Linked DNA regions of Homo sapiens: region 2 is linked to region 1. The links come from fine-mapping of genetic effects on gene expression. A gene starts in region 1. The other region holds a variant in brackets. All regions are shown on one strand. Distances are between the middles of the regions.

The links. PIP is the estimated chance that this variant, and not a neighbour inherited with it, causes the effect.
Region 2: its variant is fine-mapped to the expression of C1orf216 in whole blood (INTERVAL, PIP 0.95).

What each region holds. Positions count from the first base shown.
Region 1 is chr1:35,710,623-35,725,491 of GRCh38, reverse strand. C1orf216 (chromosome 1 open reading frame 216) reads left to right here and starts at 6,608. Exons shown (of 2, transcript NM_152374.2): 1 at 6,608-6,785; 2 at 9,166-11,615. The coding sequence starts at 9,171. The coding sequence ends at 9,860. It also overlaps a transcript of CLSPN not described here. RefSeq lists silencers at 4,490-4,784, 6,447-6,876 and an enhancer at 9,690-9,984.
Region 2 is chr1:36,310,460-36,325,328 of GRCh38, reverse strand. SH3D21 (SH3 domain containing 21) reads right to left here. Exons shown (of 16, transcript NM_001162530.2): 11 at 6,165-6,258; 12 at 6,017-6,069; 13 at 5,793-5,887; 14 at 4,531-5,654; 15 at 4,351-4,414; 16 at 3,982-4,273. The coding sequence ends at 4,202. EVA1B (eva-1 homolog B) reads left to right here and starts at 1,684. Exons shown (of 3, transcript NM_001304762.2): 1 at 1,684-1,870; 2 at 2,262-2,358; 3 at 2,604-3,299. The coding sequence starts at 2,292. The coding sequence ends at 3,034. RefSeq lists silencers at 1,417-1,646, 1,737-2,096, 2,157-2,206, 2,297-2,486 and enhancers at 1,531-2,415, 3,302-4,186. The variant T/G (reference allele first, on the strand shown) is at 3,901.

The sequences.
Region 1 (14,869 bases):
GAGGCAGCTGCTAGGAAGGGGGTGGAACAGGCACCCCCTTCTCTCTTTCCTCCTTCACTTCAGCTTCTCCGTCTAGCTTACTCCCTCTGTTGTGGGCACTGGATGATCAAGAGCCTTGGGACCTTGGATTTGGCTTTTCTGATGTCCTGGTGACCGCTTGAGTGCACTGGAGAGAAAGAATTTATATTACCTTTCATTCTTCCAGCAGCTCCGAAAAGACCTGTTTCTCCCTTTTCCCTTGGAAGGGGTGGGTGAGAAGGGGAACAGTGTTGGGGACAGGGGGAGGATTCATTTCCTAGGTTCATCTGGTGCAGTGGATTTGCAGCTGTGCCCTGCCGAACTTTTAAAAGCTTCTCTGAAGTTCCCTCGGAGCCCTTAGGTGGAGGGTTTAGGGGAAGACAGATCTCAAACTGGATATATTGGAAAGATTTTGTTGAGGAAAAAGAAATTACTTCAAGGCTCTAAAAATGCTTTAAAACTTCTAATTGAATGTACCGCCTTGTCATTTTACAGCTGGGAAAACAGCCAAAATGGAAGATAGGGGAATGGGCATATTTTACCTAAGGTAAACACATAGTAATTTCTTGATAGACTAAAGAGGCACTTTACCTTTAAGAAGCAGTAGAGAAATGGATGAACAAAACAAGTAGGTCATCAGCTTCCTAGGCCTTCCTTTCCCAAGATGAACCAATTCTGGGGAATAATGTTCGTTCCAATCTGCCTTAATGGCTCTTTGGCATGTCAAAGGTCCTCTGGGGTTGTGCCTGGTCTTGGGAGCCCAAGTGACAATGTTCACCACTATGTTATTGAACAATTTTTAAGGCATATTATTTTATTTAGCCCAAAAAGGTTAAAATGATTTGATTTGCCTAAGTTCCCAAAGCCATGTGGGGAAGTTGACAGATGATGTGACCTCAGGAAGAGAGAAGAAAGCAGGTTAGCAACGTAGTTTGTAATCCAGGATCGTGCTTTGTTCTGATATGGAAACTCTGAGGGCTTCCTCAGTTACTTCCCTGCTGTCCCCAGGATGGAGCCCAAGCTCCTTGGGATGGTGTCAAGAACTTTCACAACTGGGCCAACTTTATCTTCTAGCCTCACCTTACCTCCATTTCCCACCGAGCTCCAGCCACACTGGCCTACGGGGTGTTTCCTGAACTCACTCTGAAAATGCAGTCTCCTATGCCTTCTCTTGCTTTCTCTTGGTGAGCTCTTATTCATCCCTCAAGGCCTGGCTCAAATATCACCTCTGTGCTAGCTGGGTTTAGTGGCTCATGCCTGTAATCCCAGAATGTTGGGAGGCCAAGGTGGGAGGATCACTTAAGGTTGGGAGTTCGAGACCAGCCTGGGTAACATAGCAAGACTCCCATCTCTTAAAATAAAAAAAATCACCTCTGTGAAGCCTTTCCTTACCCTTTTCTGGGCTTACTACTTTTGCCTCCTGGCTCTGTTGCAGGGCCCATTACATTGTTATAGCCCACTCTTCTGTCTATTCCTTTTCTTTGAGACAGGGTCTGGCTCTGTCACCCAGGCTAGAGTGCCGTGGTGTGATCTTGGCTCACTGCAACCTCTGCCTCCCAAGTTCAAGCAGTTCTCGTGCCTCAGCCTCCCAAGTAGCTGGGATTACAGGCGTGTGCCACCATGCCCGGCTAATTTTTGTATTTTTAGTAGAGACGGGGTTTCACCATGTTGATCAGGCTGGTCTCAAACTCCTAGCCTCCAGTGATCTGTCCGCTTCGGCCTCCCAAAGTGCTGGAATTACAGGCATGAGCCAACACACCATGACTTCTGTTTCCCTTTCTAAACAAGGAGCTCCCCAAGACCACGACCAGTTCTGATTCTGCTCTGAATTCCCAACACAGTACCTGGCACAAAGTAAGCACTCTGTAACTGTATGATACATGTAAATGAATGGGTGGGAAGGGACAAGGTCTTTGAAGCTGAAACACCTTGATCTTACCCACCCCTTTCTTCCTGAGAATACTGATATTGAGAAATTATCCACCTATGAATAACCCTTAGGCCTGTCCTATTTCCTGGATGAGAAATTCCTCTCATCTTCTCTGGTCTCCTTGCCTGACACCCCAGGCCCTGGGACCTGGATCTGGCTACTCACTGCTAGCCTCTCTTGGCTCTGACATCTGTTTGCCAAGAGGCTTACCCGCTGTCCATCATTGGGTCTTGATGGCATGGCCTTTTGCAAAGCCCTGTTCAGGCTGATACTGGCCATCTCTGGAGGTTTCTGTGTCCTTGCCACTTAAGTTCCTGGCATATATGTGGGTAGGTGAACCCAGCCACAGATACCCTTTCACTTGGGGGTGAATTATTCTCTGGTGTCCTCACTGGAAAAGCCTCTGGCAAATGAATAACAGGCATCTCTATAGCTGCTTTTTTGTCTTCCTGTGGACATGGACATCCCTGCATTTGGAGCTTTTTTTTCTTCAGGTTTTGAGCTCTGAAAATTATGGAGTGACCAGGACTGCTGTGTGAGCACTGACTGTATTAATTATACAGTGCTAGAATATTCCATACAACACTGCCCTTGATTAACAAAACTGGCTACAGGCTGGGTGTGGTGGTTCACGCCTGTAATCCCAACACTTTGGGAGGCCGAGGTGGGCAGATCACTTGAGGCCAGGAATTTGAGACCAGCCTGGGCAACATAGTGAAACCCTGTCTCTATTAGAAATACAAAAATTAGCCGGTGCAGTGGCACACGCCTGTAGTCTCAGCTACTCAGGAGGCTGAGGCATGAGAATCGCTTGATCCTGGGAGGCGGACGTTGCAATGAATGGAGATTGCACCACTGTACTCCAGCCTGGGCAACAGAGTAAGACTCCGTCTCAGGGAAAAAAAAAAGAAAGAGAGAGACTACAATCTGATTTCCTTTAAATGAATTCACTTGACTTAGCAGGTATTGTATTATTTAGGAATAACTAGCTTTAGGCCAGGTGTGGTGGCTCACGCCTGAAATCCTAGCACTTTGGGAGGCCAAGGCAGGCAGATCACCTGATGTCAGGAGTTTGAGACCAGCCTGGTCAACATGGTGAAATCCTGCCTCTACTAAAAATACAAACATTCACCAGGTGGCGGGCACCTGTAGTCCCAGCTACTCAGGAGGTTGAGGCAGGAGAATTGCTTGAACCCAGGACGTGGAGGTTGTAGTGAGCCAAGACTATGCCACTGCACTCTAGCCTGGGTGACAGAGAGAGACTCCATCTCAAAAAAAAAAAAAAAAAAAGGAATAACTAGCTTTTTAGAACAATGGAATTGATGACTCAGCTATTCCAGGCTGGGGTGCTGCCCTGCAGAGCACGATATAGGCTTTATTTATTTTATTTTAATTTTTTTTTTTTGAGACAGGGTCTTACTCTATCGCCCAGGCTGGAGTGCAGTGGCACGATCTTGGCTCACTGCAATCTCTGCCTCTTGGGTTCAAGCGATTCTCCTGCTTCAGCCTCCTGAATAGCTGGGATTACAGACGCGCACCACCATGCCTGTCTAATTTTTGTATTTTTAGTAGAAACGGGGTTTCATCATGTTGGCCAAGCTTGTCTCGAATTCCCAGCCTCAAGTGATCCGCCTGCCTCGGCCTCCCAAAGTGCTGGGATTACAGGTGTGAGCCACCACACCAGGCCCAATATAGGCTTTAAATCAATGTATATAATGCTTTGTCCTTTGTGGCCAGAATGCATAACAAGAAGAGGTAGCGGTGGTTGTGGCACCTTATATGATTTACCTAAGGACTAAGAGTTTTCTTCCTGTCTCTGAGATTCTGGGTATTGCAGGTCAGAAGGTGATAGCATCGGCCAGGCACAGTGGCTCACACCTGTAATCCCAGCACTTTGGGAGGTCAAGGCGGGCAGATCATTTGAGGTCAGGAATTTGAAATCAGCCTGACCAACATGGTGAAACCCTGTCTCTACTAAAAATACAAAAATTAGCCGGGTGTGGTGGCACGCGCCTGTAACCCCAGCTACTCGGGAGGCTGAGGCAGGAGAATGACTTGAACCTGGGAGGCGGAGGTTGCAGTGAGCTGAGATCGCGCCACTGCACTCCAGCCTGGGTGACAGTGAAACTCTGTCTTGGGAAAAAAACAAAACAAAACATGGTGATAGCATCATGGGAGGAATGTTTCTTCTAACCAAGAAACACAAAGATGATTCCCTGGGATTTCGGCTCCTGGTAGCACTAGAGGAATAGGAGAAGGGGGTGGTCTCAGTGTAGACTGGACTGATCATGGCTACCAAGGAGAAAGGGAGTTACTGTTACCTAATAAGTGTTGAGAGGTGCGTGAATGGAACCCAGAGACCCTGGGGTCACCACCTTGTGCTATTGTAGTAATCAGCATTCTTTCAATTGTCGGTGAAAGAAATTCCACTCAAGTTAGGCTTGGCAAAATAAGGCATACAAAACTATAAGTTTAGATGCAGGAAACAGGGTCTGCAACATTATCAGAACTATCTCTCATCTCTGTTTCTTCCCTGCCTCGTCTTCCTTTAATTTCGTTTCAGAAGATCCCAGAGAAGGACTCTGACTGGCTCACCTGGAGTGGAGCTCCTATCCCTGGATTCTTCAGGCTTTCATTTGACCCACATGGTTAAGCTGGGAGAGACAGAGTCCAAAGAGAGGCGGAGAAGGGCTATTCTGGGCAGAACAAACAATTGATGACTTTATGGCTCTGTGGTCTGGGCAGAACTGCATAACCCTAGATCACCAAAGCTGAGAGCCTTTAGGAGTGAGGATTTGGGCCAGGCATGGTGGCTCACGCCTGTAATCCCAGCACTTTGGGAGGCCGAGGTGGGTGGATCACAAGGTCAGGAGATCAAGACCAACCTGACCAACATGGTGAAACCCCATCTCTACTAAAAATACAAAAATTAGCTGACGTGATGCATGCACCTGTAATCCCAGCTACTCAGGAGGCTGAGGCAGGAGAATCGCTTGAACCCGGGAGGTGGAGGTTGCGGTGAGCCGAGATTGCGCCACTGCACTCCAGCCTAGGCGACAGAGCGAGACTCCATCTCAAAAAAAAAAAAAAAAAAAAAAAAAGTGAGGATTTGGGTCACCCCAGGCTGAAGGCCAGGGGAACCTGAAGTGGATAAGGGAAGGGAGAAGACTTAGGCCACAGGATCTGATGTAGAAATGGGGCTGACGTCTCCACCTGTATTTTCTTAGCTGGAGGAGTGTGCAAAGTTTGAATTACTTCTGCCTTCTCCTTCTTATTTCCTTTTCCCTTTTAAAATAGTCATCATAATCATAAAAATTTCTTTTCCATTTTCCCTGTTTTTGCATATAGGATTTCTTGGTGTGATTTAATTTGCCAATTAGTCTCTAGGTTGCAGAATGGTGACTTGGAATCAAATTGAAACTGGAAGAGGGCACCTCATATATTAGGGTCAGCAATTACTGAACTCTGTTCTCTTTTATTCCAAACAGGGCCCCCAACTTCACATTTCCCCAGGGTGCAAAAGAGTGAGGGGGGTCAAGCTTCAGTAGAGTGGAGCTCTGAGAAGAATCCACTGGAGTTTGGAACCCAAGACCCTTTTTTATCACGCTGTTCCTCCTCACCTGGGCAAAAGCACTGGTACCCACTTCACAGGCATCATGGGTGGGCTCTGTGTCCTGCGGAGAGCCCCCGTCCCGGGTACAGGACATCAGCCCTGAGCCCTGTCCCAGGCTTGGATCTTCTTTCTCTCTCTCTCTTTTTTTTTTTTTTTTTTTTTTTTTTTTTGAGACGGAGTCCCACTCTGTTGCCCAGACTGGAGTGCAGTGGTGCAGTCTTGGCTCACTGCAACCTCCACCTCCCAGGTTCAAGCGATTCTCCTGCCTCAGCCTCCCAAGTAGCTGGGATTACAGGCGCCCGCCACCAAGCCCGGCTAATTTTTGTATTTTTAGTAGAGATGGGGTTTCACCATGTTGGCCAGGCTGGTCTCAAACTCCTGACCTCAGGTTATCTGCCCGCCTCGGCCTCCCAAAGTGCTGGGGTTACAGGCGTGAGCCACCGCACCCGGCCTCAGTGACTTTAGTCAAGTAAGCACAAAAAGGAATATATAATTCCAAATTGTGATAAATGCTATGAAGAAAAGGAATGTGCTCTGACATAAAGGGGGGAACGAACGTGATCTAGGGAGTCAGAGATCTCTCCGAGAAGAGATCTGAAATAGGAGTAAGTCGAGAGGGGGAAGAGAATGCTAGACCGAGGGAACAGTGCGTGCCAAAGCCGCGTGGCGGAAAGGGGCGTGTGGGAGGGTAACTGCGGAGAGGGAGGGTAGAGGACGAAGCCGGAGAGGCAGACGAAGGGCAGGACGCACAGAGCCCCGCGGCTACCGCCTTAGGGGTTGTCCCGGCGGTGGGGAAGCCATTGAGGAGTTTAACGCCGGAAGGTGGTGACTAATCAGATTTCACTTGAAAATGGCACGGTGTCTGCAGCGAGGCTAACTGATGGGAAGGGCCCAGCGAATGCCAATAGGAGAGAGCACCGGACCTGGAAGGCCTGGGTCAACGCGGCCCCGCGCGGGGGCGAAGCGGTTCCGGCGCAGGGGCCTGGCGCGGGGCTCCGCGGAAAACCGAACCGGCCCACGTGGGACCGGTCGCTCCGCCCTGCTGCGCAGACGCCGCCTGACTCCGCAGTCCGGGACTGGGGCTGGGCGCGCTGCCCGGGAGCCCCGCACCCACGCCTGGACCGCGGAGACGCCCAGGCCGAGGAACCCCCAGCCCAGGGACTAGACACCACCAGGGCCGGGCGGAGCCAGAGCCAGACGCGCCGGAGCGGGCGCCTCTACGCCGTGAGTCCGAGTCTGGGGCCCGAGGCGGGGTGGGGCTTGGGGCTCAGCCGCGGGAAGCGGGGAGTCACAGTGGCCTCCTTCGAGGAGACTAGGGAAGGATGGTCTCTGTCTCCTGGGGTGGTCTCCCACTCCCGCAAGGCCAGAAAAGGAGGCTGCCTCCTGTTTGGGCGGAGACCTAGTCCTGGCGTGTCGGGGTTCTCATTTTACTATCTCTGAGAACCCTGTGATCCCTAGCGCCACCCCCACCCCATCCCAGCTTCCTTCACGGCCCCATCCAAGTATAGGAAAAATAAAAAATTGGGGCGAGGGGAGATCTCTAGGCACCTTCCCACAAGCCTTGCTTAGAGGGCGATTAGAAACGAACTGTTCCTACACCCTTCTCCCCAGGACTTCTCTGCCCATTGCTGGGGGTGGGGAGGGTCCATGCCACCTATGGAGCGCCTTCCAGTGCCGGCTCCACTTACAATACCCTTCCTCTTCATGCTCTTCAATTGTTCTAATCCCAGTGCTGTTTGGTCAGTAGAATCCCTTTGTCAGTTCAAATCCTAATTTTGGTTAGAAGCAGGTTATGGAGGAGAGAAGAGTGGTGTGGTATGCCCTCCCTCCAGGGCCTCAGAATGGAGCAAGCTAGGGACGGGGACCGCAAGATAGTGGCTGTGTTCCAGAGGCATTGGGAGGGAAGGGGGCAGGCTCAGAAGAAAAGCTTGTCACTGGGGAAGGCGGGGCTCCCTGGCTGGGGTAGGAAAGGGAACCAAACCCAGCTCTTCCAGAACCCAGCTCTTCCAGCCCTGGGGAGTCAAGAGTGGATTCCTGAGCATGGAAATTCACTGCAGTCTCTTCTCCCATTCACTCACTTAGCAAGTACCTGTATGCACAGACAGCCTGGTTCAGGGCTCTATGCTGGCTGACTCTGGGGAATATGATGGAGGATATATACAGGAGGTCCAAGCCAGATTACAAACTGCTATTACAAGATCATTACCACAAACCAAAAATGCCAGTTGAATAGACATTCACTGATCGTCGACCATGTATGCCAGGGACGGATGCAAAGTTGGATAAGACAGTGTATACCCAGCGCAGTGGGGACCCAGAGGAAGGCATAACTAACCGTGCTTGTTTATGTAATATTGATTGGGGCAGTATCAAGACGGCTTCAGAGACATGGGGACATGGAAACATGGGGATATTACAGCTAATTTTGAAGTACAAAAAGGAATTTGCTGGGTGGAGAAGGGAGGAGCTTTGAGGGGAGGGGAGAGGAAGGATATTGTAGGCCAAAGGAATACTGTAAGAAAAACAATGGTGTGTTTTGAGATCTCTGGGCAGTTTGCTATGATGGGAGGGGCAGAGTGGCAAGAGGCAGGTATGGAGGGGTGAGCAGGGGCCAGATCAAACAGGGTGTTGTAGGCCAGGTAGAGGTTTAGCAGGAATTCAGGGAGGGCATTAGGAGTGGTGACAAGTGAAATTTACATTTTTAACTGGAGGCAGAGAGATCAGTGAAAAGGCCGAGGCAATAATCCAGGTCAGAAATGGCCTGGAAGAGGAAGAATGGTCAGAATGTGGTTATTAATGAGATGGGAGAAGGAAGGATAGTGAGGACCCCAGGATGCTCTCAGCTTTCTGGATGGAGTACAGAGCCATCTTGCTGAGGATACTGAAGGAGAGCTTGTTTGGTTATGTAGAATTTTGGCGGGGGGCGGTGGTGGAGGGGGATGATGTCACTCTGTCACCCAGGCTGGAGTGCAGTGGCGCAATCTCGGCTCACTGAAACCTCTGCCTCCTGGGTTCAAGTGATTCCCCTGCCTCAGCCTCCCAAATAGCTGGGATTACAGGTGCCTGTCACCATGCCTGGCTAATTTTTGTATTTTTAGTAGAGATGGGGTTTCACCATGTTGGCCAGTCTAGTCTCGAACTCCTGACCTCAGGTGATCTGCCTGCCTCGGCCTCCCAAAGTGCTGGGATTACAGGTATGAGCCACCATGCCTGGACTGGTTATGTAGAATTTGAGGAGACTATGGTTGGTTGCAGGGTTGGATAGCAGTTGGATCTGGGCTGAAGACAGATCTGAGAGTCACCAGCATATGATGGTCTTTGAAGCTACAGCAGAGAATGAGGTCCTCTGGAGAGAAATGCACAAAATCAGAAGACAGCCTGGCTCTGAGGACGGAGGAAAAACCCTTTGCAGGAGACTGAGAATGAACAGGTAGACAGGGAGGACGAAAACCACGAAGGGAAGTGTTACCAGAGTCAAGAGAAAGGGCTTGACAGGGAGTGGCCAGGCTCTTGCTTGCAGCCTTGTCCCTGCAGCTAAGTTGCCCTGACTTCAGGCACCCCACCCTGTCCTACTGTGACTCGGTCTCCTGCTTTCCCTTTACAGGCTAGATGTTCGCCATCCAGCCAGGGCTAGCTGAGGGGGGCCAATTCCTGGGGGACCCACCTCCTGGATTATGTCAGCCCGAGCTCCAACCAGACAGCAACTCCAACTTCATGGCAAGTGCCAAGGATGCTAACGAGAATTGGCATGGGATGCCAGGCAGAGTGGAACCTATCCTGAGGAGGAGCTCCTCTGAGTCACCCTCTGACAACCAAGCCTTCCAGGCCCCTGGATCCCCTGAGGAAGGGGTGCGCAGCCCCCCAGAGGGGGCAGAGATTCCCGGGGCTGAGCCTGAGAAGATGGGTGGTGCTGGCACAGTCTGCTCCCCTCTGGAGGACAACGGCTATGCCAGCAGTTCCCTGAGCATTGACAGCCGTAGCAGCAGTCCTGAGCCTGCCTGTGGGACCCCGCGAGGCCCTGGCCCTCCCGATCCCCTTCTGCCCTCAGTGGCCCAGGCTGTGCAGCACTTACAAGTCCAGGAGCGCTACAAAGAGCAGGAGAAGGAAAAGCACCACGTGCACTTGGTGATGTACCGTCGCCTGGCACTGCTCCAGTGGATCCGGGGCCTGCAGCATCAGTTGATTGACCAGCAGGCCCGACTGCAGGAGAGCTTCGACACCATCCTAGACAACCGGAAGGAGCTTATTCGCTGTCTCCAGCAGAGGGCAGCACCATCCAGGCCCCAGGACCAGGCCTAAGGGTGTGCCTCCACAAGTGTGCAAGGGTATATGTATATATTTGCAGGCATGTGTGAGGCGCACTAGTAAGTACATAATTTGCTGGCATGATTGCAGGTAGGCATGAGTGTGTATGTGCTAACATGTAGGCTGGTGTGTGTAGGCATGTGTGAATAAGCATGTATAAATGAGCTTAAGTGTGCTGTGTGCACATGTGTACACACAGCTAATTTATCTGCAGACCTATATGTGAGCATGTAAGAGTGAACATATGTGTGTGTGTGTAGTATGTAAGAATGAGGAACTCGGTATGTGCATGTGTAGACAGGTACCCAGCAGTGTGTGTATATGCGCATGAGTGAGGATGTATAGGCAGAAGATGTGTGTGTCTATGAGTGAGTTTGAGTGTGCAGGCTTGTATTAGGTGTATGTGAGGAAGCCCTTGTGTGTGCAGGGGTGCACATGTTTGGCCACAGGCATGGGAGGTGTATGTTAGGAGCATGTGTGTTTGTAGGCAGACTCATGAGCAGGTGTGTGCAAATACATATCCAGCTGCACTGTGGGTGTCCACCCACACCTTGTGTTCCTCATGGCCTACCCCAGCCTTTCTTCTCCACTGGGTCCCACTGTTCCCTGGAGACAGAGGGCTAGCATGCTGTCATTTATCTGAAGGTTGTGGCTGACCCATTCTCCTGGGATTTCCCAGGCCACCTCTCCTTTCCCTTTCCCTCACTTAACCCAGACTTGCTCAGCTGAGGCTATTGTCCCTGATGTTGGCTTTACTTGTAGGAGGTTTAGTGGCTGCTCTGGCCTGCCATGGAATTTTGGCTGCAATTTTGGCAGTGTGTGGAGAACTGGTATCAGGAAAGGGAACCAGGAGTAGTGATGAAGATGATGGTGGGGATGGGGACAGAGGACATAGGGGACTGTCCCTCTTGAACTCTGCCTTTGGGCACATGGGAGATGGGGACAGGAAAGATGATAACAGTGGAACCCTGTGAAGAATAGGAGAATGGGAATTCTAAAATACCAGTTCCCAAACAAACCATCTCTCCATTGGAAAAGGAGCTGTTGCAAACCGTGTTCATTTAAGCTTCTGATGAAAAGCAATGTATGTTTATAAGCTTGCAAGTAACAGACAAGATGTTCCAAGGCCGATGAGGAAAATATCGCTTCCCTGTCTCTGCCTCTACCTTGCTGTGCCTCTCTGGCTTTAGCAGCATTGGATGTTGAATTGGTTTGGTTCATTTCTCTGAAGTCGGACTGTCAGGAGGAGCCAGAGGTTGGCTTTCTGGGATGTGAAGGGGACAGTGTCAGCCTAAGCCTCTGGAGATGCTTAGGATGCTGAATTTTAACCCCTTCTTTCACTGCATGGCCCTTCAAACAGGGATTGGCAGGCTCCGCGAGTTACAGAGTGGGTGAGTCTTGGAGAGAACCAACGACTAAGGTAGCTTAGCTCTCTGCTTTGTTCTTGGGAGCCAAGAGAATGCAAGATCCTGGTGGGTGAGCAGTGGTATGAAGAGGGGACACTGGTGGGTGAACAGTGGCATGGAAGTCACTGATGCAGCCTCTGGCCCTCAGTCTCCCTATCGGCAAAGTGGGGGGCTCTTCCTATCTCTAAAGAGTTTCATCCCTGACAGGTGGATGGGTGAAAGATCCAGAGAGTGGGGGTGAGGGGTGGGCCCTGAAGACTTTTTGTCTGTAGCTCTTGCATATTGAGTGTATAAACCCGGCTTCTGGACCAACCCAAGATGAATAAACTGGGGCAGAAAATTACATTTCTTGAGTATGTGTTTTTCTTCTACCTGTTGTCTGATGGCCTCTTTTTCATACCATCTGAGCTCCCCTTTTGAGTAGGGTCCTGGACTAGGAGCTAGGGAGGTGGTTTTGGGGAAAGACACTGAAGAATTTAGACTGCTGTGCCTGGCGATCCAATGGGGTGGAGAAGTCTCTCAGGGGCCATCCAGTGTGACAGGGGAGACTTGACTTCTACCCTGAGAGCCCCATATGGGATTGTCCTTGTCCTGTGTCACCTTTGGGCCTAAATGAATTGCGAGGGACACATACCATACACACTCGTACATACTCAACTGTACCCTGGGCAGGGCACGGTGGCTCACACCTGTAATCCTAGCACTTTGGGAGGCTGAGATGGGTGGATCACCTGAGGTCAGGAGTTCAAGACCAGCCTGGCCAACATGGTGCCTGTCTCTACTAAAAATACAAAAATTAGCCAGACGTGGGGACGGGTGCCTGTAATCCCAGCTACTCAGTAGGCTGAGGCAGGAGAGTCGCTTGAACCTGGGAGGCAGAGGTTGCAGTGGGCAGAGATCGTGCCACTGCATTCCAGTCCGGGCAACAAGAGGGAAACTCCATCTCAAAAAACCAAATAAAACAAAAAATAAAACACCAAGTACCCTGGTGTCATCACTTCCCTGAAGGGCGCTCTGACTATGACTATGATTTCGGGTCCTTAGATGGTTTTGACACACATGTAGTTATAATATACAGTCATCCTTTGTTATCTGAGGGGATTGGTTCCAGGATCCCCAGGGATACCAAAATTCACAAATCTGAAATACTGTATTTTATTTTTATTTGATTTGATTCTTTATTTTTGGAGACAGCGTCTCCAAGATACGCCCAAGCTAGAGCATAGTGGTGCAATCATAGCTCACTGTACCCTTGAACTTCTGGGCTCAAGTGATCCTCCCACCTTAGCCTCTGAGTAGCTGGGACTACAGGCACACACCACCACACCCAGCTAATTCTTAAGTTTTTTGTAGTGATGGCTTCTTGCTATATTGCCCAGGCTGGTCTCAAACTCCTGGCTTCAAGCCATCCTCCCACCTGAGCCTCCCAAAGTGCTGGGATTACAGGTGTGAGCCACTGCGCCTGGCCAACATTTTTATTTTATTTTATTTTATTTTATTATTATTATTTTTTTGAGACGGAGTCTCACTGTGTTGCCCAAGCTGGAGTGCAGTGGCGCGATCTCGGCTCACTGCAAGCTCCGCCTTCCGGGTTCACACCATTCTCCTGCCTAAGCCTCACGAGTAGGTGGGACTACAGGCGCCCGCCACCGCGCCCAGCTAATTTTTTGTATTTTTAGTAGAGACAGGGTTTCACTGTGGTCTCAATATCCTGACCTCGTGATCTGCCCGCCTCGGCCTCCCAAAGTGCTGGGAGCCACTGTGCCTGGCAACATATTTATTTTAAACTTCACAAAGTATACTTCTCACTGAAACAGTTAATAATTCTTGTCATCTCCACACTTGACACTTAAACAGAAATAGTATTGAACCAATTTTTACAAATTCCACTTACTAAGAGATGTTTTGGCAAAGGGCTAAGGCTAAATTTGAATGGAGATTTCTGACAATAAGATGTCTGTCAAACCTTCAGAGCATAAGAGGGTGAATTTTTATAAGGAGCCTTTTTTTTTGGAGACAGTCTCACTCTGTTGCCCAGGCTGGAGTGCAGTGGTGTGATCTTGGCTCACTGCAACCTCCACCTCCTGGGTTCAAGCCATTCTCCTACCTCAGCCTCCCAAGCAGCTGGGACTACAGGCACATGCCACCACGCTTGGCTAATTTTTTGTATTTTTAGTAGAGATGGGTTTTTGCCATGTTGCCCAGGCTGGTCTCAAACTCCTGAGCTCGGGCAATCGGCCCACCTCAGCCTCCCAAAGTGCTGGGATTACAGACATGAGCCACCATGCCCGGCCAGGAGCCCCTTTTCTAAATGTGTGAGGGCTCTTTTGAACACAGCCCCTGGTGAAGGACAGAGACCCTGAAGCCAGACACCCTGGATTTGGACCTTGTCCCCATTGTTTTATGTTTTTGTGACCTTGGGCAAGTCAATTAACTTTTCTGTGCTTTAGTTTCCTCATCTTAAAATGGGAATAATAGTAATAACTACTTCGCAGGGTTGCTGCAAGGATTAAATATGTAATATATAGAAGACTTAGAATTGTACCTGACACATAGTAAGTTACATTAATGAATTATGATTATTATAAATCATACTTTTTTGGTACATACAGCTTTTTCATAGAAAAACATTTTTTCTTATGAAATTGGAATCTAAAAAAATTTTTTTTTTTTTTGAGACAGGGTCTGGCTCTGTCGCCCAGGCTGGAGTGTAGTGGTGTGATCTTGGCTCACTGCAACCTCCGCCTCCTGGGTTTGAGCAATTCTCATGCCTCAGCCTCCCGAGTAGCTGGGATTACAGGTATGCACCACCACGCCTGGCTAATTTTTTTGTATGTTTGGTAAAGATGGGGTTTTACCATGTTGGCCAGGCTGGTCTCTAATTCCTGGCCTCAAGTGATCCGCCTCAGCCTCCCCACCTGCTGGGATTACAGGTGTGAGCCATCGCACCTGGCTGAATCTAAAATTTGAATGTCATCTTTAAAGGGGAAGGGGACTTCTAAAAAATAAAGCTGCCTAATATTCCTTTCCAGAAAAGAACTCTTTGAGCTGAGAAAAAGAAGAAGGTGAGACCAAGGGAATGTGTGGTGAATTGTATGTTTACAGGACCCCTGCCAGTCACTGAAGGTCAGGGACTCCCCGGGGGATGATGGGTTTGGGAAGGAGATTGGCAAGAATAGAGCCACAGCCCAGGACGGCAGAGTTAGGGGCAGGGAAACGGAGGCAGGACTCCAGTGGCTGAACCAACTCAGCCAAGAATTGTGGTTCTCCATCAGGTCCACTGGCCACGAGGCCTAATCATGGGAAGTGCTAAGGTGACCACAGTACCTCCCATAGGCAGATCTGAGCTACACTCTCTATACTCAGTTTCCTCACCTGTGGCAACTATAAGGGCTGAATGAGGAAATGGACGTGAAGATGCTCTGTATGGATTAAGAAGATTGTGTGCCTCCCCTGCATGAGGCCCTGAGGAGCCTGCTCTTGTCTTTGAGAGCTGTGGTGTGCACAGGTAGATGAGACTTGCATCCAAAAGCCTAATGCAGGCTGGGCACAGTGGCTCATGTTTGTAATCCCAACACTTTGGGAGGTTGAGGCAGT
Region 2 (14,869 bases), 600 kb before region 1:
CCGGCATGATGGCTCACACTTGTAATCCCAGCACTTTGGGAGGCTGAGGTGGGTGGATCACTTGAGCCCAGGAGTTCAAGACCAGCCTGGGCAACATGGCAAAACCCCATCTCTACAAAAATTAGCCAGGCATGGTGGTGCACGCCTGTGGTCCCTCCCAGCTACTTGGGAGAATGAGATGGGAGGCTCACTTGAGCCCAGGAGGTAAAGGTTGTGAATGAGCTGAGATAGCACCTCTGTACTCCAGCCTGGGTGACAGAGTGAGACCCTGTCTCAAAGAAAAAAAATTAAATATATCTATTGTTTAGGAAATAATGATAAGAAAAAAAGTCTGTACATGTTCAGCACAGATGCAATTTTGGTTTTGAATATTTTTGATGCAAAGTTGGTTAAACCCACAGATGCTGTGGACTAGACTAGGAAGTGCTAGGCATACACAGTATTTGTTGACTAGTGGCTGCACAGATTTATATACAGACATACCCGCCCCCACAACAATACTCAAATACATCACATTAATAGACAAATATACAGATGTGGGCAAAAATACCTGCCCGCACATTCACAGAACACACTAAACAGTCACAAAGACACCCAGGAGTCCCTTTTCCATCCCCATAGGAGTCAGTCCTAGTCCTCCCCCATCTAGATCTGCCCTCTACTTGAACCCAGTCTCGGGACTGGGGGAGTAGGGGTCTGCAGCCCGGACAGGGAGAGGGTCGCTGGCCCACAGGCCTCAGGCAGCGCCTTCAGCTATGTCTGCAATTTCCTCTCCCCCTTTCCTCCTCCTCTCTAAGGCTCCCGCCAAGGCGGCCTCCCCCTCATTCTAGCTCCAGCAAGGGAGGGGAGGTCCATGATGGGGGGGCCCCGTGGAGACAGGGCAGAAGGAAGCCCCCCGCCACACACACTGATCACACACCACATTGCATGCACAAGCCCAGGTGGGAAATGCGTGTGTGAGCACAGGCAGGTTTAGCCTTGGGGTGGGGGACGGGATGGGGTGGGATCTGCCACAAGCCGCCACAAGCTGCTTGGTGCACAAGAGCGCAGGAGCTCGCAGGCACAGAGGCCCCACGCTGGGGTCTGCGAGACTGCTGGCCGGGCCCTGGCTCAAAGCTGGAGTCCAACAATCATTAACCCTGCGTGACTAGACCAGAGCTCGGCCAGGGGACACATTCAAGCCTGGGCCCTGGAAGGAGGGGTGGACAGTCCCCTCCCTTCCAGTCCAGCATGGGTCTGGGGAAGAGAAGCAGCTTTGCCTGGAAGGGGCCTCCTAGGAGGGGGAGCGGTGGTTTCTAGCTCAGGCTTTAGGATCAGAGAGCAGCAGATTCAAATCCTGACGGTTTTGGTAAAGTCAATTCAATCTCTCCAAGACTCCGTTTATTTGATCTGCGAAGTGGGGATAATGGTATCACGTCGCAGGGTTGTCAGGCGGAGTAAGTGAAAGAACCTGTCCAAGGTTTAGCCCTTGGCCCGCACGCAGGCAGAGCTCCAGCCTCTCTGTTGTTGCTGTTAGTGGCCTGGGGGCGGGTCCCTGCCGCGGCCTCCCCGGCGGTTTCCTGTGGGGGACGGACGGCCCGCGGGCCGGGCTCTCCCTCCTCCCGGCTGCCCGCTCCTCTCCCCTTCCTCTCCCAGCCCTTTTCCTCCCCGCCTCCCCGCCCGCCCCGCCCCGCCCCGTCCCTCCTCTTTCCTCGGAGGAAACTTTCCGCCGGCTGGTCCCTCGGTCCGTGTCCCGCCCGTGCTGCCGCGGCCTGGGAGCCCAGCGGGGCCGGAGGGGCGGCGGGACCCGAGCGGGCGGGGGCGGCCGGACCCAGTGTATGCGGCCGCGGGACGCGCTGGGGCCGGGCAGCCGGGAAGCGGGGCGCTGACGGTGAGTGGGCCTGGCCCCGGGCCGGTGGGTCCCCGCGGGGCGGCCGGGCGAGGAGAGAGGCAGCTTCCCTTCCCGGAGCCCGCCTGGGGCGTGGAGGCTCAGCGTCCCTATCCTCCATCCCGCCCCGGGACGGCGGAACCGGGCCTCAGCTGGGGACCTCACCAGGGGGCGGGGCCTCCCGCGGTCCCCGGCGCTGCTCCCAGGACTGGAGGGGCGTCCGCGCCCGGGAGAGGGGTTCCCCCCGACAGGGCCCCGGGCCGCCACGAAGTTAGGGAAGCGCTCTCTCCAGGGTGGAACCTGGGCCCGCGGCTCCCGGGAGAGGAGCTGCCCGCGGAAGGGGTCGGGGTGGGCTCCAGGCTGGGAGAAGGATCTGACTTTGCTGACCTCGCAGGCTGGTAGGGGAGCTGCCCCCCAGAGCAGCATGGATGCCCCGCGAAGGGACATGGAGTTGCTCAGCAACAGCCTGGCTGCCTACGCGCACATCCGCGGTGAGGGCGGGCGCCGGAAGACTGGGGGCCTGAACCCTTCCCTGACCACCATCCCCTTCCCTCCCCAGCGCCTTGTCCGTCCCCTCCGCCCCGCTCCCCGCCCTCTTGCCCGCTGGCGGTTCCCTAATGCCCTTCGAGTAGGGGTTACAGGCCTCGCCCCCACACCTAGAACCTGGGGTCTTTCGGAAGTGGGACAACCCCCACCCGTCCGGGCCTCTCCGTGACCCCCGCCCTGTGCCCCGCAGCCAACCCCGAGAGCTTCGGCCTCTACTTCGTGCTGGGCGTCTGCTTCGGCCTGCTGCTCACCCTCTGCCTGCTCGTCATCAGCATCTCGTGGGCGCCCCGCCCGCGGCCCCGGGGCCCGGCTCAGCGCCGGGACCCCCGCAGCAGCACCCTGGAGCCCGAGGACGACGACGAGGACGAGGAGGACACGGTGACTCGGCTGGGCCCCGACGACACGCTGCCGGGCCCCGAGCTGTCCGCAGAGCCGGACGGGCCCCTCAACGTCAACGTCTTCACGTCGGCGGAGGAGCTGGAGCGGGCGCAGCGGCTGGAGGAGCGCGAACGGATCCTGCGGGAGATCTGGCGCACCGGGCAGCCGGACCTGCTGGGCACAGGCACGCTGGGGCCCAGCCCCACGGCCACGGGCACCCTGGGCCGCATGCACTATTACTGATGGGCCCCGGCTCCCGCTGCAAGGCGCTCGGGGTACCGGACCTGCACATGAGCTCAGAGCTACCCCACACCTTCGGACTGCCTCGGCCCCCACAGCTCCCAGGTGCTACTGGGCGTGGACCGCCACCCCCTGAGAGGCTCCCTTCCCCAGTCCTGCCAGAAGACCCCGGGGGCGGGGAGGGGGCAGCATGCAGGGTCCCCACTCCCTCTCTGGGGTCGATGAAGAGGTGAAGTGACCAAATGAAAGAAAGCTGCATTCTCAGTGACTCAGTCTCTCCCTCTGTTACTCCTGCCCCCAGCGACCCCCAGGCTCCTGCCACGCAGGGGCCCCAGGACTGAGGCCCAGCTTGACTCCCTTACCCTAGCTGCACCACCCCCACCCACCAACCCGACGATACAGCACACCTGCCCGCATTCACTTCACAGCCAGCAGAAAAGCAGAAGCCCACAGGCCTGCACCCAGCCTCACACACAGAGCAAGCGCGCGCGCATTCCTTATTCAAAACGCATTCCTTACCGGCAAACGCCTGGACACACGTCGCCCTGTCCCCACAGTGCCCTGGGTTCATACACTGCAATGACACACACACCAGGCCTCAGGACCCTGACCTCGAGGCTAAGGTGCTGCTAGCCCCGGTGTAAGCATGCGTGCTTGGGCTGGACGGTGGACTTCACGTCTGCGCCGAGGTGCGTTCAAGCGAGAGGGCAGGAGTCCCTCTGAGCGGACAGGGAGGCCAGCTGGGAGGGGTCCGAGCTGGCGAGAAGGCCCGCCCGGCTCCTCCCCGGCGCACAGCTGGATTCCGGAATCTAGGCCGGGCGTCAAGAGCCCGACCCCGCCTGGGCCCCTCCTGCCCGCCATTTCTCCAG[T/G]GCGCGGCTGGAGTCCGAAGGAGACACCCTCCCCCGCCCCTCACCATCCGGTGGATAAAAATAGCCGCGCGCAGGCCTTGGGAACGGTAATGGGAGCCACATGTTGGCCAGATGTGCCTGGGAGGGACCGTCAGGAATGCGGAGGCCCAGGCCCTGCCCCCGCGCAGGCCCCGCCCCCAGCGACCAGACCGGCGTGGCGCCGTGCTAGGCAGAGTTTACTTTCTCGCGTTTCCCAAAGTCGTGTGCAAGGACGTGGGTGGCCCCAGCCAGGTCAGGCCGCGGTCCCTTCCCAGGCCCACCCTCAGTAGGTCTGCGTCTGCGTGTGGATGACGCGCGGGGTCTGGGACTTCTGGGTCCCCTGCATCACCTGGACCTGGTCGGGAGTGAGGTGGAGACTTTGTCAGGGGGCCACTCGCCGTCAGCCCCCTCCCGCCGGGACCCGCGCCTCACCTCCAGCCGCCGGCGCTGCTCCTTCTCGCTCTTCAGCTCCTCCCAGATGTCGGTCAGCTTCCTCCTGCGGGCCGAGGCGGAGGTGAGGGGCTGGGCAGGTGAGGGCTGGAGGTGAGGGGCTGCGCAGGTGAGGGCTAGGGGGAACCCTACCTTCCACAACCCCCGCCACTGCCCACTCACTCCAGCTGCACCTCCATCAGCTCCAGCGCCCTCCTTAGAGACTCCACCTCGCCCCTCAGCGACGTTACATCAACTCCTTCATTCTTGTTTTCCGTGTAGTTTTGCGGGACCAGCGAGGGGAGCGCGAGCGTCTCTTGGGAGTCTGGAGGCGGCTTGATAGGACGTGTTTTTTGGGCAAAGGCTCTTTCTATGGGGGGCACCTCCTCTTTTGGAGCCACTTCCTCTTTAGGGGGCAATTCCTCTTTCAGGGTCACCTCCTCTTTGGAAGCCACTCCCTCTTTGGGGAGCACCTCCTCTCTCAGAGGCCTCTGCTCGTTGGGGGGCGCCTCCTCTTCAGGGGTCCTCTCGTCATTGGAAGGTGCCTCCTCTGGAAGGGTTGTAGCCTCTTCGTGGGGGTGGGGCTTCTCAAGGGCAGGCCTGGATGCTGGCCCAGACTTCAACTCAGCCTGGCGTGGGGAGCTGTCCCCTCTAACTAGGGTACATTTCATCTCTCCCAGGCACCTCTCTGAGGAAGGAGGCTGGGGTGGGGGTGCCTCTGGCGTGTGGGCCTCCTCCTGGGATGATGGATCCTCTTTGGCTACAAAGTACTTGACCTTCTGCAGGGCTTCCTCCGAAGAGAAGTGATGGAATTGAATGTCATCTCTGGTGGACACCTCTTCTTCAGAAAGCTCTGGGGTCAAGACCTTTTCTAGAGTGGGGGCCTCATCCCCCAGAGGGGCCATCTTTGGATTAGGGACTTTATCCATAGGTGGGGCTTCTAGGGCAGGGGACTCTTCCACTGAAAAGACCCTCTCTGGAGTGGAGGGTTTGTCCACAGTCAGGGTCTCCTCTGGGATGATGGAGTTCTCTGGGATAGAAGCCTTGTCCTCCGGAGTCACCATCTTCTCTGGGGTGGGGACTTTGTCAGGAGCTGGGATCTTCCCCGAGGTGGAGTTCCCTGGGATAGAGGCCTTGTCCCCTAGAGTGAGGGTCTTCTCTGGGGAGGGGACTTTGTCAGGAGCCGGGATCTTCTTGGAGCTGGGGGCGTTCTCTGGAGCTGGGGGCCTCTCTGGGGTGGCAGTCTTGTCCGGCATGGGGGTTCTCTTCACAGAGGGGGCCTTTACCGGGCTGCTGTGCTCTTCCTCCTGCCGTGATGGGAGGTGAAGTCTCAGCTGAGGTTGAGTCTGGTTCCCCTTGGCCTGGGAGACTTCACCCGTGCACACCACAGCTGGGAACCAGCCTCTGCCCAGCATCCCCACTCTCCCATGTCTCCCGCCCCTCACCTGACTGGACACAGAGCGTTGCTGGGGAGTCTGGGTTTTGGATCGCTTTCGGCCAGGGTGATACGAACCCCCACTTTGGAAGCCACCATTGGGGCCTAAGAGAGCAGAACCTCAGGGACCCAAGCCTACTCTGACCCTCAGTCTCTTCCCACCTCTGTCCCTCCGCACAGCCACCCCATCCCTGTCCTCCAGTCCTCCCCGCACTGGAGGAAGGCAGCCCTTGCCTGAGTCTCGGGAGGTGAGCTTCTGACTGTCCCTGCTGGGTGTCCGAGATGTCCTGGAACATATCTTCATCAGGCCCTCAGGGTGGGGCACAGGGAGGGGCGTTGCCTCCTACCCTCCTCCTTCCCCCAACCCCATCCTGCTCCTTACTTGGCTTTGCTGGGCCCAGTGGTGGCTGTTGCTAGCTTCTTGACTGTGGGGAGGGATGTTTTGGGCATCAACTTTTTTGGTTCCTTAATAGGAGCTGGGAAGAGAGGAGTGGAGCACTCATCCATCTGACAGTCGCTAGCCCTGTCTTGTGCTGTGTGCAGGGGACTATGGGCAGGAGGTTAATCTTGTTTGACTATGCGCCACTGCACCCGGCTAATTTTTGTATTATTATTATTATTATTATTATTATTATTATTATTATTATTTGAGATGGAGTCTTGCTTCTGTCGCCCAGTGGTGCGATCTCGGCTCACTGCAAGCTCTGCCTCCCTGGTTCACGCCATTCTTCTGCCTCAGCCTCCCGAATAGCTGAGACTACAGGTGCCCTCCACCACACCCGGCTAATTTCTTTTTGTATTTTTAGTAGAGATGGGGTTTCACCGTGTTAGCCATGATGGTCTCATCTCCTGATCTCGTGATCCACCTGCCTTGGCCTCCCAAAGTGCTGGGATTACAGGTGTGAGCCACTGCGCCCGGCCAATTTTTGTATTTTTAGTAGAGACGGGGTTTCACCATGTTGGCCAGGCTGGTCTCGAACTCCTGACCTCAAGTGACCCAGCCTGCCTCAGGCCTCCCAAAGTGCTGGCATTACAGGTGTGAGCCATCGCGCCCAGCCCACTCTCAGAATTCTTTATATTCTCTCTCATTTACTCTCTAAGAGATCTCACCCAGTCTTATGGGTTTAATTTTCATCAATAAGTCAATGACTCCCAAATTTTCATCTCTAGCTCCTTCCTCTCTGACTCCAGACTCATATCTGACTTCCCTCTCAATATTTACACTTGGAGAGCTGATGGGCATCACACTCTTAACATATCCCAAACCAATCTCTTGCTTCCCAAACCCATGCCCCTTGAACCTACCCCTTTCCCCACAGTCCCCATCTGGCTCATTTACCCACTTGTTTGGATGACAAATGACTCCTTTTATTTCCTTATGAGACACATCCAAACCATCAGCAAATCCTGTCCACACTACTGTCCAAATATTTCCTGAAGTCAATCACTTGTCACCACCTCCACCACTAAGTGCTCTAGATCAAGTCACCACCACCTTCACCTGGACATTCCAACAGCCTCCAACCTGGGATTTGGCTGTACCCATCCCACCTAGAGTGTGTTCTTCCCACAGCAGCCAGACTGAACTTGTGTTCTATTGGGGAAGCAGATATAAATACAAGGAGTAAAATACATAGTGTGTTAGAGAGTTATTAAGCGTGACTGACAAGACTAGGCAGAAGGGGCTAGGCGCGGTGGCCCACACCTGTAATCCCGGCACTTTGAGAGTCCAAGGTAGGCAGATCACTTGAGGTCAGGAGTTCAGGACCAGCCTGGTCAACATGGTGAAACCCCGTCTCTACTAAAAATACAAAAATTAGCCAGGCATGGTGGCGTGCGCCTGTAATCCCAGCTACTCCGGAGGCTGAGGCAGGAAAATCGCTTGAACCTGGGAGGGCAGAGGTTACAGTGAGCCAAGATCGCGCCACTGGACTCCAGCCTGGGCGACAAGAGTTAAACTCCGTCTCAAAAAAACAAAACAAAAAAACACTAGGCAGAGGAAGGAACCATTTTAAATGGGGTGGCCAGAGAAGGGCACACTAAGGTGACATCAGCATCACTTGAAGGCAGTTACACACAGTGACATTCAGATCCATAGAAAAACAGCCACTCTGGCATGTGCACAAGTGCTGATGTTAACTCCTACATATAATCACACGCAGATACGTATACAAATCCACAAATCTGACAGTGGTTGGGGGCATGGATCCCACAGCCAGACACCAGGCTCTGAATTTCAGCTCCACTCCTTGCTAGTTGTATGAGAACTTGCTAAGTGATCTATGCCTCAATGTCCTCATTCATAAAACATGGACAACTAACACACACCTTGTAGGGTGGTTGTGAGGTCTGAGTGACTTAATACATGCGAGGTGCTTAGAAGACTGTTTGGCAGCCAGATGGTCAAAGCTCAGTAAATGTTAACTTTGACTTCTTACATTCTTACAGTATGGCTGATTAGGTGCTCTGTAGGGTGCTCCCACTAGGAAGCAATTATATCCTGCTGAGGACACAATTTTGAGGCACCATTGGACTTAAAAGAGGTAAAGGAGGTCTACAAAAGAGAGGACTGGACTGGGTGCAGTGGCTCACACCTGTAATCCCAGCACTCCCAGTGGCTCACGCCTGTAATCCCAGTGCTTTCAGTCCCAGCTACGTGGGGGGCTGAGGCAGGAGAATCACTTGAACCTGGGAGGCGGAGATTGCAGTGAGCCAAATCACGCCATTGCACTCCAGCCTGGGTAACAAGAGCAAAACTCAGTCTCCAAAAAAAAAAAAAAAAAGAGAGAGAACTGAAGCCAGAAAGGCGGAGGGAGGGAGGGCAGCTCTGCTCTGTGGCTACTGAGCCTGGGCCCTGTGATGTGAAGCCAGGGCCTTGGGCTCTGCTCCCTCACCTCACCACAGGCCCCAAGCTCAGTACCACACAGCAGTGCTACCTTTCTTCAGGAGGACCGAAGCAGCTTCTGGTGGGTGGTGTTCTCTGGCTACTGGGAGAAGTAAAAGCAAATTCTCGGCCAGGCGCGGTGGCTCACGCCTGTAATCCCAACACTTTGGGAGACCGAGGCAAGTGGATCACCTGAGGTCAGGAGTTCGAGACCAGCCTGGCCAACATGGTGAAACCTCATCTCTACTAAAACTACAAAAATTAGCCAGGCGTGGTGGCGCGTGCCTGTAATCCCAGCTACTGGGGAGGCTGAAGCACGAGAATTGCTTGAACCCGGAAGGAGGAGGTTGCAGTGAGCTGAGATCGCATCATTGCACTCCAGCCTAGGCGACAGAGCGAGACTTCATCTCAAAACAAAACAAAACAAAACAAAAAATAAAAGCAAATTCTCGCTGGAAGAAGTCTTCTTCTACTAAGGCCTGCAAGAGTCCCACAGATTAAAATCCAGCTATCAGCTCATAAATAAAGGTCATAAAACACGCTAGAGGGCAGGTCACCAAGAATGGAGTCAGCAGACACAACACACAACAGATAGTGGAACTGTCAGGTAGAGAACACTGCATAGATACGTATAAAACATTTGAAGAAGTTCAGGATGTGCATGCAACAAAGGACAATCAGGAATAACCATGCAGGTTTGGAAAATTATCACACAGAAAATGGAATTACTAGAGATGAAAAATAGCATTCTTGAAAAAGAAATGCAACATAAATCCACTTATTTACATGTATATTGCTTATGTTACTGGTACAGGGTTACAGAGCAGAGTAAACAGAGCCAAAAGGCTAGAGAATTTGTAAACTAGAGGTGCAGTGAGACAAGGAATGAACAGCGTGACAGCAATGTTAGGAGGGAGGAATGACAGAAGCAGGATTTGGCTCTGGCTGAATGAGGTGGTGGACAAATCCTCTCTTCACAAGGCAACTATGAAGCTGGACAAAAATGATCCAACAGGCCGGGTGCAGTGGTTCACGCCTGTAATCCCAGCACTTTGGGAGGCCGAGGTGGGCGGATCACCTGAGGTCAGGAGTTCGAGACCAGCCTGGCCAACATGGTGAAACCCCCTCTCTACAAAAATAAAAAAATTAGCCGGGCATGATGTTGGGTGCCTGTAATCCCAGCTACTCAGAAGGCTAAGGCGGGAGAATCGCTTGAACCCAGGAGGCAGGGGTTGCAGTGAGCTGAGATCATGCCATTACACTCCAGCCTGGGAGACAGAGCGAGACTCCTTCCCCCCGCAAAAGAAAAAGAAAAATCCAACAACCATTTCAATGCTCTGGAAATTATCCAAAGGCATGAGATAATTTGCGAAGGATTTTTTTTTTTGAGACAGAGTCTCGCTCTGTCACCTAGGCTGGAGTGCAGTGGCGTGATCTTGGCTCACTACAACCTCCACCTCACAGGTTCAAGCGATTCTTGTGCCTCAGCCTCCCAGATAGTTGGGATGACAGGTGCCCGCCACCACGCCCTGCTAATTTTTGTATTTTTTGGTAGAGACAGGGTTTCGCCATGCTGGTCAGGCTGTTCTCAAACTCCTGACCTCAAGCAATCTGCCCGCCTCAGCCTCCCAAAGTGCTGGGATAATTTGCAGAGCATTTTGTATGCTTGATAATGTTCTTGCCTAGGGCCGTTTTCATCCCAGGCCCCTCAGCTTGGTCCACATGGATGTTCTGCAGGGTAGGGCAAACTGTGAGGATCAGCAGCTTAACTGGCTAAGTTGAAGGCAGCTCAATTTGGAGTGTAATCTTGGGATTTGACATTGGTTCAAAAGCACAGCCAACCAAAAAAATAGATAAATGGGACTTCATCAAAATTTAAAACTTTTGTACATCAAGGGACACCATCGAAGAAAGTGAAAAGACAACCTAAAGAATGAGAGAAAAACTTTGGGAGGCCGAGGTGGGTGGATCACAAGGTCAGGAGTTCAAGACCACCTGGGAAACATGGCAAAACCCCATCTCTACTAAAAATACAAAAAATTAGCCGGGTGTGGTGGCGCACGCCTGTCATCCTAGCTACTTGGGAGGCTGAGGCAGGAAAATCGCTTGAACCCAGGAGGCAGAGGTTACAGTGAGCTGAGATCATGCCACTGCACTCCAGCCTGGGTGACAGAGCAAGACTAAAAAAAAAAAAAAAAGAATGGGAGAAAATATTGCAAACCATATATATATATACGCATATATATGATTAGGGACTTTTATCTAGAATATATAGAGAACTCTTCCTCAATAGTAAAAAGACAAATAATCCAATTTTTTAAATGGGCAAAGGATCCAAACAGACATTTCTCCAAAAGAAATAAGCACATGAAAATATGCTCAGCATCGGGCCGGGCGCGGTGGCTCACGCTTGTAATCCCAGCACTTTGGGAGGCCAAAGCGGGTGAATCACGAGGTCAGGAGATCGAGACCATCCTGGCTAACACAGTGAAACCCCGTCTCTACTAAAAATACAAAAAATTAGCTGGGTGTGGTGGCGGGCGCCTGTAGTCCCAGCTACTCGGAGAGGCTGAGGCAGGAGAATGGCGTGAACCCGGGAGGCAGAGCTTGCAGTGAGCCAAGATCGCACCACTGCACTCCAGCCTGGGTGACAGAGCGAGACTCCGTCTCAAAAAAAAAAAAAAAAAAAAGAAAATATGTTCAGCATCATTAGCCATCAGAGAAATGCAAATCAAAGCCACAATGAGATACCACTTCATACCCACTAGGACAGTTGTCATTAAAAAGATAACAAAAACAGCTGAGTGAAGTGCCTCACAACTGTAATCCCAGTATTTTGGGAGGCCAAGGCAGGAGGATCACTTGAGCACAGGAGTTCAATATCAGCCTGGGCAACATAGCAAGACCTTTTCTTTACAATAAACTTAAAAACTAGCCAGGTGTGGTGGTGCACACCTATAGTCCTAGCTACTCGGGAGGCTGAAGTGGGAGGATCACTTGAGGTTTGAGGCTGCTGTGAGCTCCCATTGTGCCACCACACTCCAGCCTAGGCAACACAGCAAGACCCTGTCTCTCCAAAATAAAAGAGTATACTATGAACAACTTTATGCAAATAATTAGAAAACTTACATAAAATAGTTAAAAACACGTAACTCCACAATTGATTCAAGAATTTTACCCTGACTTTTCTTTAACTATTAAAGAAATTGAAGAAGTTGTTTAAAATAATCCCATAATGAAAAAAAATATGGCAAGATGAATTTACAGACAAGTTTTACCAGCTTGCAAGGAAAGATGATTCCCATCTTATTTATTTATTTATTTATTTATTTATTGTGAGACAGAGTCTCACTCTGTCACCCAGGCTGGAGTGCAGTGACGCGATCTCGGCTCACTGCAACCTCTGCCTCCTGGGTGAACAAGCAATTCTCCTGTCTCAGCTTCCCGAGTAGCTGGGACTACAGGCATGTGCCACCATGCCTGGCTAATTTTTTGTATTTTTAGTAGAGACGGGGTTTCACCGTGTTAGCCAAGATGGTCTCCGTCTCTTGACCCCATGATCCACCCGCCTCAGCCTCCCAAAGTGCTGGGATTACAGGCGTAAGCCACCAAGCCTGGCCCATTCCCATCTTATATAAGATCCACCAGATAGGCCAGGTGTGGTGGCTCACATCTGTAATCCCAGCACTTTGGGAGGCCAAGCCGGGCAGACCACAAAGTCAGGAGTTCGAGACCAGCCTGGCCAACATGGTGAAACCCTGTCTCTACTAAAAATACAAAAAAATTTAGCTGGATGTGGTGGTGCACACCTGTAGTCCCAGCTACTTGGGAGGCTGCAGCAGGAGAATTGCTTGAACCCGGGAGATGGAGGTTGCAGTGAGCTGAGATCGCGCCACTGCACTCCAACCTAGGTGACAGAATGCGACTCTGTCTCAAAAGACAGTAAAAAGAAGAAAAGGGAAAACTAGATTCAAAATCAGGAACATGACAATGATGTTCACCATCACTACTTCTATTTAATATTGTATGAGAGATCCTAATAACTACAATAAATTAACAAAATGAAATTAAAAGGCAGGAGTGAAGAGAATGACACAAAAATTATTATTCACAAATGATATGTCTGTCTTCACAGGAAACTTGTAAGAACCTACAAATGAATTGCTGGAAATAATCAGAGTTTAGCACCATGGCTGGCTATAAAAACAATATACAAAAATCAATGCATTTCTGTATTCCTGCAATAAACAGAAGAATGTCTATTTTTTAAAAGACACAATAAAAACTCTGAGATACCTAAGAATATCTGGGAATAAATCTTATGAAAATTATGGTCTTATGGCCGTGTGCGGTGGCTCACGCCTGTAATCCCAGCACTTTGGGAGGCCAAGGCGGACGGATCATGAGGTCAGGAGATCAAGACCATCCTGGCTAACATGGTGAAACCCGTCTCTACTAAAAATACAAAAAATTAGCCGGGCGTGGTAGCGGGCGTCTGTAGTCCCAGCAACTCGGGAGGCTGAGGCAGCAGAATGGCATGAACCCGGGAGGCGGAGCTTGCAGTGAGCCGAGATCTCACCACTGCACTCCAGCCTGAGTGACAAAGCAAGACTCTGTCTCAAAAAAAATTTAAAAAAAAAGAAAATTATAGTTTTATGTATAAAACTAAGCCAGGCACCGTGGCTGACACCTCTAATCCCAGCACTTTGGGAGGCCAAGACAGGAGAATTGCTTGAGCCCAGGAGTTCGAGACCAGCCTGGGCAACACAGTGAGACCCCATCTCTACAAAAAGATTAAAAGATTAGCTGCACATGGTGGCTTGTACCTGTAGTACCAGCTACAAGAGAGGCTGAGGTGAAAGAATCGCTTAAGCCCAGGAGGTTGAAGCTGCAATGAGCTACAATTGCCACTGTACTCTAACCAGGGCAACAAAGACCCAATGACCCTTTCTCAAAAAAAAAAGAAACCCCCCAAATTGTATAAAACTCACATGTAGAAAATAATAAATGATGCTGGAACAACTCATTGTCCATAGGGAAAAAGGTATAATTGTATCACTCATTAAAATCACTACTACATGAATAAAAGCACTAATATAAAAAGCAACATTTTAAAGGTTTTAGGCCGGGCACGATGGCTCATGCCTGTAATCCCAGCACTTTGGGAGGCCAAGGCGGGCGGATCGTGAGGTCAGGAGATTGAGACCATCCTGGCTAACACGGTGAAACCCCATCTCTACTAAAAATACAAAAAATTAGCTGGGCGTGATGGCAGGCGCCTGTAGTCCCAGCTACTCGGGAGGCTGAGGCAGGAGAATGGCGTGAACCCGGGAGGCAGAGCTTGCAGTGAGCCCAGATTGCGCCACTGCATTCCAGCCTGGGCGACAGTGCAGACTCCGTCTAAAAACAATCAAACAAACAAACAAACAATAACAACAAAAAACAGCAAATCTCAGCCAGGCACGGTGGCTCACGCTTGTAATCCTAGCACTTTGGGAGGCCAAGGCAAGCGGATTGCCTGAGCTCAGGAGTTCAAGACCAGCCTGGGCAACACAGTGAAACCCCGTTTCTACTAAAATACAAAATATTAGCCGGGCATGGTGGTGGGTGCCTGTAGTCCCAGCTACTTGGGAGGCAGAGGCAGGAGAATCGCTTGAACCTGGGAGGCAGAGGTTGCAGTGAGGGGAGACTGTGCCACTGCACTCCAGCCTGGGCAACAGAGAGAGACTCTGTCTCCATAAAAAAAAAAAAACAAACAAACCAAAAAAAACAGCAAGTCTCAGAAGACTATAAACATGCTACCATTTTTATGAAGCTCAAAAACAAAAATGAATTTAGTGATACAGTGTTTAGACACATACTTTTGTAAGAAAACTTAAAAACTTGGGGGAACCATAAACATAAAATTGAAGACAGTGGTTACCTTTGGGGTGAGGGAAGTGGTAGAATAGGAAAGAGGAGGAGGACACAAACAACAGGCAATGTTCTAGTCCTTAGGTTTAGGTGACATACCATGGGTGTTCGTGGGTGTTAATTTTTTTTTTTTTTTTGAGACAGAGTCTCACTCTCACCTACGCTGGCATACAGTGGCATGATCTCAGCTCACTGCAACCTCCCCCTCCCTGGTTCAAGTGATTCTCCTGCCTCAGCCTCCCAAATAGCTGGGATTACAGGCATGCCTACCACGCCTGGCTAATTTTTGT